Homo sapiens: one gene and its partner. Changing the gene in region 2 together with the main gene of any one other region gives a genetic interaction. Each region holds a gene or a part of one and is shown on either strand. Other genes may lie near its edges. The genes, in order: PTK6 and RET.

Evidence for each region.
Region 1: changes in RET (region 2) and PTK6 together harm fitness less than expected from each alone (positive genetic interaction), as found in Homo sapiens cells (one large-scale study listed by BioGRID).

The regions. Positions count from the first base shown.
Region 1 is NC_000020.11:63,530,918-63,534,667, reverse strand, and holds part of PTK6 (protein-tyrosine kinase 6), read left to right. Parts: intron 1-352; coding exon 353-516; intron 517-963; coding exon 964-1,117; intron 1,118-1,980; coding exon 1,981-2,142; intron 2,143-3,740; coding exon 3,741-3,750. UniProt on the Homo sapiens protein: Non-receptor tyrosine-protein kinase implicated in the regulation of a variety of signaling pathways that control the differentiation and maintenance of normal epithelia, as well as tumor growth.
Region 2 is NC_000010.11:43,111,569-43,115,380, reverse strand, and holds part of RET (proto-oncogene tyrosine-protein kinase receptor Ret isoform a precursor), read right to left. Parts: intron 3,283-3,812; coding exon 3,157-3,282; intron 2,529-3,156; coding exon 2,418-2,528; intron 1,826-2,417; coding exon 1,706-1,825; intron 902-1,705; coding exon 645-901; intron 1-644. UniProt on the Homo sapiens protein: Receptor tyrosine-protein kinase involved in numerous cellular mechanisms including cell proliferation, neuronal navigation, cell migration, and cell differentiation in response to glia cell line-derived growth family factors (GDNF, NRTN, ARTN, PSPN and GDF15).

The DNA of each region.
Region 1 (3,750 bases), on a different chromosome or scaffold from region 2:
CACCCATGGGAACCTCGCCCAGCATGAGACCTGAGCCTGGGGTGTGCGGGGCGCAGAGAAACCCCATCCCTGCCCCTGAGGATCTCAGCATGGCTGGGATTTTAGGCAGCTGCCATCCAGGCGGAGGCCACTGGCTGCCTGGCACGGGGGCAGGAGGGGCCAGAGAGCTTGGCCAGAGCGTGCAGGGCAGGAGGGAGCCGTTCTGAGGGAGGGGAGGCAGGGGTGGTACTGAGGAAGCACCAACAGCAACTGTGGGGACCCAGAAACTCTGCGCAGGTGTGGCCAGCAGGGCTGGGGACGCAGGGAGGCGTCGGAGTTGGGGTGGCCACACAGCTCACGCTCTCCCTCCCAGTGCGGGACACGCAGGCTGTGCGGCACTACAAGATCTGGCGGCGTGCCGGGGGCCGGCTGCACCTGAACGAGGCGGTGTCCTTCCTCAGCCTGCCCGAGCTTGTGAACTACCACAGGGCCCAGAGCCTGTCCCACGGCCTGCGGCTGGCCGCGCCCTGCCGGAAGGTAGCCGCTCCGCCCTGACTTGGTCACGCGGGGTCAGGCTGGGGGGTCACAGGCTGGCATTTCCTACTGGGAGAGGTTGGCCGGGCAGCATGGGAGGGGTCCTGACTCACTGACCTGGGGCCCACTGGAGGGAAGCCCATGGTTCTGCAGAGCACAGGTGTTTGCCTGAGTTGGGGGTGGGGCCAGGAGACCATCCCCGGGCCTGGCCACTCTCGGAGAGGCCAGCGGCACTCTGCAGGGTCCTGGCTCCGGTCTGTCTGGGTGTTTCATGCTGGGCTGGGGGCAGCCCCCAGGAGAGTCCACCCTTGTGTCAGACACTCAGAAACCCCCAACCCAGGCTGATCGTGGCCCTAAATCTGAGGCTAAATCCAGGCTCCCTGTGCTGGCTTCAGACTGGCACTTCCTGAAGGATGAGCCCCTGCCCTGTGTCCCCGACTCTTCCTCCAGCACGAGCCTGAGCCCCTGCCCCATTGGGATGACTGGGAGAGGCCGAGGGAGGAGTTCACGCTCTGCAGGAAGCTGGGGTCCGGCTACTTTGGGGAGGTCTTCGAGGGGCTCTGGAAAGACCGGGTCCAGGTGGCCATTAAGGTGATTTCTCGAGGTGAGTGGGCCCCGATCAGGGCTCTGTGTGGCCCCGTGCCTGCCCTGGGCCACCCTCCCACCCCGCCAACAGGGACCTCTGGCCTCGAGCCCCAAGCAGCACCCACAGCGTCCATGCGAGAGTGGTTCCCTTTCAATTGCACCTATGTTTTTACCTAAATACATTTATTATAAAAGAAAATTTTAGGCCGGGCACGGTGGCTCACATCTGTAATCCCCACACTTTGGGAAGCCAAGGTGGGCGGATCACGAGGTCAGGAGTTTGAGACCAGCCTGGCCAACATGGGGAAACCACGTCTCTACTAAAAATACAAAAATTAGCCGAGTGTGGAGGCATGTGCCTGTAGTCCCAGCTACTCGGGAGGCTGAGGCAGGAGAATCGCTTCAACCCAGGAGGCGGAGATTGCAGTGAGCTGAGATCGCGCCATTGCACTCCAGCCTGGGCGACAGAGCAAGACCCCGTCTTGGGAAAAAAAAAAAAGAAAGAAAGAAAGAAAATTTAAAATCCTTGACGTAATGGAAAGCCATTAAAATAGATCACTGGAAATGGGTAAAACTTCCCTGGAACCCGTCTGGGCCCCAGCAGAGGTCTGGCCTCTATGTCAGAGGTCTGGGCCGGGCACAGGAAGAAATCGGGTGGCCACCACAGCCCCGTGGGTACGCCAGGCTGGGGCCCTGTGGGGCCGGCTGCATCTGCCATTTCGTGGCCTCGGGAGCCAGGTGCCCTGTCGGGGGCAGGAGGTCTGTGTGTCCTGCACAGCTGCTGGGTGTGATGGCTGCTGTGTGTGGGGGCAGGGCCTTGGCCTCTTCCTTGGGGCCTGGGGGGTCAGGGGCTGCATCCACCGAGGCCACCCGTCCCCGCAGACAACCTCCTGCACCAGCAGATGCTGCAGTCGGAGATCCAGGCCATGAAGAAGCTGCGGCACAAACACATCCTGGCGCTGTACGCCGTGGTGTCCGTGGGGGACCCCGTGTACATCATCACGGAGCTCATGGCCAAGGGCAGCCTGCTGGAGCTGCTCCGCGGTGAGTGGCATGGGCCGGGGCTCTTGCTGGAGGCAGCGGGGGCACGTGAGGAAATAAAGTGCACACCCCCCCCCCACGTCTACACACACACACACGTAGACACACAGACACACAGACACACACATGCACACACAGACACAGACACAGACACACAGAGACACACACGCACAGACACACATGCACACACACATGCACACAGACATACACATGCACACACAGACACACACACAAGACACATCACATGACACACACAGACATACACATAGACACAGACACACACACAGAGACACACAAAACAGATCACACGGACACACACAGACACACACACAGATCACACGGACACACACAGACACACACACACACAGACACACACTGATCCAGACACACACACAGACACACACAGATCACATTGGCTCAAAGACTTCATCCTCTCTAAGTTCCATTATTTCCTTTCTCACCAAAACCAAAGACAATCGCTGCCAGGGAATGGAGATGCCCGTGCGTGAAGGCGCAGTTTGGATTCCGATGTTAGAATGGGAGGGAACGTTGTGGTATAGGAAAAATGCCGTGTGTGTCTGAGGAGAGCTACACTGAGGCACCACGCACGTTTGCGCTCTGAGCGAAAGGCTCCGTACCCCTCGCCCTCACACAAAGGGCTTGATCATCTCAGACAGTCCCCACGCCCTTCAGGGTCCTCCGGGAGGGAATGTGGGGTAAAACAGGCACCACCAGGCCGCAAGCCGCTGACAGCCATTCTCCTGTTCGAGTTCCCACTGCCTACATCACGCAGTCATGAGCCTCTTCGCTGGTCCTTCTGCGTCCAGCTCCTCCCGCGTCATCACAAACTTCCAGAAGGGAAATCGCTGGGCTAGACCACTAGGAACTGCTCCTTGGTTCTTTTTTTTTTTTTTGAGACGGAGTCTCACTCTGTCGCCCAGGCTGGAGTGCAATGGCGCAGTCTCGGCTCACTGTAACCTCCACCTCCTGGGTTCAAATGATTCTCCTGCCTCAGCCACCTGAGTAGCTGAGATTACAGGCACCTGTCACCACGCCCAGCTAATTATATATATATATATATATATATATATTTTTTTTTTTTTTTTTTGAGACGGAGTCTGGCTCTGTCGCCCAGGCTGGAGTGCAGTGGCGTGATCTCGGCTCACTGCAAGCTCCGCCTCCCGGGTTCACGCCATTCTCCTGCCTCAGCCTCCCGAGTAGCTGGGACTACAGGCGCCCGCCACCACGCCCGGCTAATTTTTTGTATTTTTAGTAGAGATGGGGTTTCACCGTGTTAGCCAGGATGGTCTCGATCTCCTGACCTCGTGATCCATCCGCCTCAGCCTCTCAAAGTGCTGGGATTACAGGCGTGAGCCACCACGCCCAGCTTGCTCCTTGGTTCGTGATAAACAGTTGCCTTCCAGAAGGGCGGTAGCTGGCCTGCAGTTCCAATTTTCAATCAGGCCAGCTGCCCTTTGCCCCGGCCCCTCCTCTGAGCCCGCAGAGCTTGGAGGCAGATGAGACATGGCCCAGCCTCCCCAACCCTTCCCCACCTCAGCTGGCTCAGCTGACCCCAGGCTCTGCTCCACTCCCCTCTGCAGACTCTGATGA
Region 2 (3,812 bases):
CCCTCCCAGGAATCCCAGGCCACCTCCCAGCCTGAGATGGGAACTGCCAGGGCCCTGTGGCCACTGGGTGCTCAGCTTCCTCCCTGGAGGCTCCTGCCGAGGAGCTATTCACGCCACCATAAGCTGCGTGGCTCACCGTTCACTCACACCCTTGGCTCTGAGCCTCTGTTACTTCCAGAACTGGGCTTGGCTTCCAGCGCCCTGGACAGTGCTAGTAGGAACACTGAAGGGGCAGGCCACCACCAGGAGAGGGCAGAGGCCTGCCTGGCCGGGACAAGGAGGCTCCAGGATACTCGGCACAGCCTGGAGGCTCTGAGTAGCACATGCAGACCTGCAGGCCAGGCTCCCCAGAAAGGCACCCCCTTCTGACTTCAGTGCCCCTCCATCCACACTGCTGCTCCCCTGCCCGATGCTGTGACCCTGACCACTGCCTCTCACCTAGATGGGAACGGCACCTCATCACAGTCCCACCCCACAGACTGTCCCCACACAGCGCCCTATGGAAATGGGGGCAGAACACAGGCCTCGTCTGCCCAGCGTTGGCAGCCCCTCACAGGATGGCCTCTGTCTCCCCAGCTGGCCTCCCTCCCTGGAAGGCAGCTGGGGAGGGCAGGGGATCTTCCCTGCCCCGCAGGGACCCTCACCAGGATCTTGAAGGCATCCACGGAGACCTGGTTCTCCATGGAGTCCAGCGAGGGCCGGCGGGCACCGGAAGAGGAGTAGCTGACCGGGAAGGCCTGGGCGGGCCTCCGGAAGGTCATCTCAGCTGAGGAGATGGGTGGCTTGTGGGCAAACTTGTGGTAGCAGTGGATGCAGAAGGCAGACAGCAGCACCGAGACGATGAAGGAGAAGAGGACAGCGGCTGCGATCACCGTGCGGCACAGCTCGTCGCACAGTGGATCTGTGGGTGGGGGTGGTGTGAGGCTTGGCACCGCCAGAGGCTCGGCACCACTGGGTACAGGCTGCGTATGCTCTGCCTCATGGCTCTCCAGCCTGCCGTGTCCGCGCCAGCTGGGAAGTGGCCATGGAGGTGTGGGAAGGCCTGAGAACACCCCATCGAGCATGGGTACTGCCATTTACTGCCCCCTCCTAGACCACTATTGCCCTCTTACAGATGGAGACAGAGGCTCAGAGAGGCTGAGCAGCCTGCCAAGGTCACACAGCAGAGGCTGTGCTCATTACACCAGCTGGCACTGGAGGGCTGGCAGGGGAGGTCAAAATTTTCCTCTGTTCCAAATGTCTTTGGCATTTTCTTTATGAAAATGCTAAGTGGCTAGGGACGTAGGGCTATATAATACCAGAAAACTCAATGACAGAAACGTGTCCCTATGCTCAGGCAGAACAGCACCCCTGAGTGTAGTCAGTGTGGCTGTGCAACCCACCATACCTGCTGACCTTGAAATGTGTTCCTGGGTGGGTCCCAGCTGCATGGTCACAGGGACAGTGACTTGTCAGGCTGACAAGTTGTTTGGTGGAAGAACTGCTTTTCTGGCCTGTCCATCATAGAACTTATGGCCAGAAGACACTTTACAGGGGCCCTGGCCCCTCTCCTGGGTGGAGTAACAGAGGCCCAGAGGGAGGGAGGGAAGTTTCATGGGGCCCACTCGCCTCCCAGCAATTTCCTCCCTTGTTGGGACCTCAGATGTGCTGTTGAGACCTCTGTGGGGCTGGGAGGTGGTGGTGGTCCCGGCCGCCACCCACTCACCCTGGATGTCTTCGGGCTCGCAGAAGCACTTCTCCTCCTCAGGGAAGCAGTTGCAGGTGCCATAGCCAGCTTTAATCCCCCGGGGCTCCCCAGGCTCGTGTCCCCCAACAATGCTGCCCCCTGAGGGCAGACGTAGCCCACTCAGCCTCCTGGGGCGCCTGACCACCCCAGGCGCCCATATTTCCAGGGCAGTGTCCCAAGGAGCCCCCTCCCCAACTGGTGTCGCAAGCATAGGCCCAGTGAGGCCAGGGGCCCAGCAGCTTGGCTTAGCCGGGCAGGGCTTGGTCACAGTGCCTTTCTGAAGCCATGGGTGAAGCCAGGCCCCCTCCTAACATTTCATCTGAACAAAGGACTCTGCCTCCAAAACTGGAGCCTGGTGGCCTGACCCGCACATTGCAGTGTCCCTCGTCTGGCTCAGGGCCGCACTTTCCCTGTCAGTGTCCCTACTGACCATTCTCTGCTTCTGAAATCTGTGTGTGCCGACTTCTGGGACCTCAGCAGGGGCCTGGACAGTCTGTGGGTCCCTGCCTTCCCCCTGTCCCTGACCCTGCCTGCTCCCTCCCCATGGCTAGGGTGATGCTGAAATGCACAGGAGGCTCAGCTTGATGCATAGAACTGACAGCCCTGGCAACTCTGGCTGAAGTGCCTGTGGGATCCAGGTTTCCCCTACTATCTCCTACCTGTTCCCATGCCCTGATTAAACCCTGCTTACGGAGGCAGTCCTGAGGGCAAATGTTGATGTCTTGGGTCTCCACAACATCGCAGTGGCCGTCGGGGCAGGTCTTGGTGCTGGGAGAGCAGGTGGAGAAGTTCCTGGTGATCCCTGCACAGGACACACAGCAGGCTGTCACCCATGTGGGAGCCCCGCCACACGCCCCCACCACCTCCTAGGCAGATCCTGCCCCTCTAGGGAGGAGCAACTGGAGGCCTGAGTAGGGAAACACCATATACAGAGCCTTGCCAGCGGAAGCATCCTGGGGAGCCATGGCTTATGGGAGAGGAGGTATGGGGGGTTCCTCACACAGGTGGCCCTTACAGCAAAGAGGCCGGGACCCTCTCAGGGCTGCATGGTGAGGGCCCCTCATGGTGGTGGGCACACCCAGGCTGGCCTCTGGCTGATGCAGACAATGAGTCCCCTGCCCACACCACATCCCCTGGCCGAGGACCTCCCAGAAAAACGCCATTCTGTCCCCAGCACATCCCAACTTTGGTTCAGACCTTCCCAAGTCCAGAGTGAATCCGGCCTGGGGACCATTCACTGTACTCACAAGCCCTCTCCCAAGCCCTGCACTGCTGCCCGCTATGCTGGCATCGAGAGCCACATGGGGGATGAGGTGCCAGAAGCAGACCTGGAGCAGGGAGAGCCACCCCAGGCTGGCAGGGCCCCAGGACCCCGTTTCCACCGGTGCCATCGCCCCTGCAGGCCTCCCTTGGGCGTTTCCAGGGCTTACCTTTGCCATCTCCTTGCCTCCACTCACACCTGCCTGTTGGGGAGCCCAGGCCGCCACACTCCTCACACTCCAGCCGTCTCTTGCTGACTGCACAGGACAGGGGGCAGCCCGCCTCCTCGGCCACATCTGCAGGTGGCAGACAAGCAGGGTCACAGGGGGCTGGCCTGGGCCCAGCGTCCAGCTAGTGCCCAAGGACAGGGAACAGCACCAGCTGAGCTGCCCACGGATGGAGCCCAAGGGGACCGGAGTGACAGACCCAGGGCAGCAAAGACAGTGCCAGGAGCACAGGGCGCAGGGCAGGGTACAGGACATCATGGTCACAAAGCAGGGGTCACCTGGGCTGGGGTAAGTACAGGAGGAAGGATGTGAGTGCAGCCAGATTCAGCCAACGACGCCCTGTGGGACCTACATTTCAGATACACAATGAATGGCATGAATGGCAGCTGTGTCAGCATGTTCCTAAGAGGGCATGGATGGACCTAGAGGTGTGTCTTTCGAGAAGCTGCAAAAGTTGCATGGAACACACCTATACCAAAAAACTGCTTGTTGTTTACCCAAAATTCAAATTTACCCAAGGTCCTGTATGTTATCTGGAAGGAGCAACCATTTACTGCTGGGTCACTCAGGGTGAAGCTGGTCCATGCCTTCCCCACTCC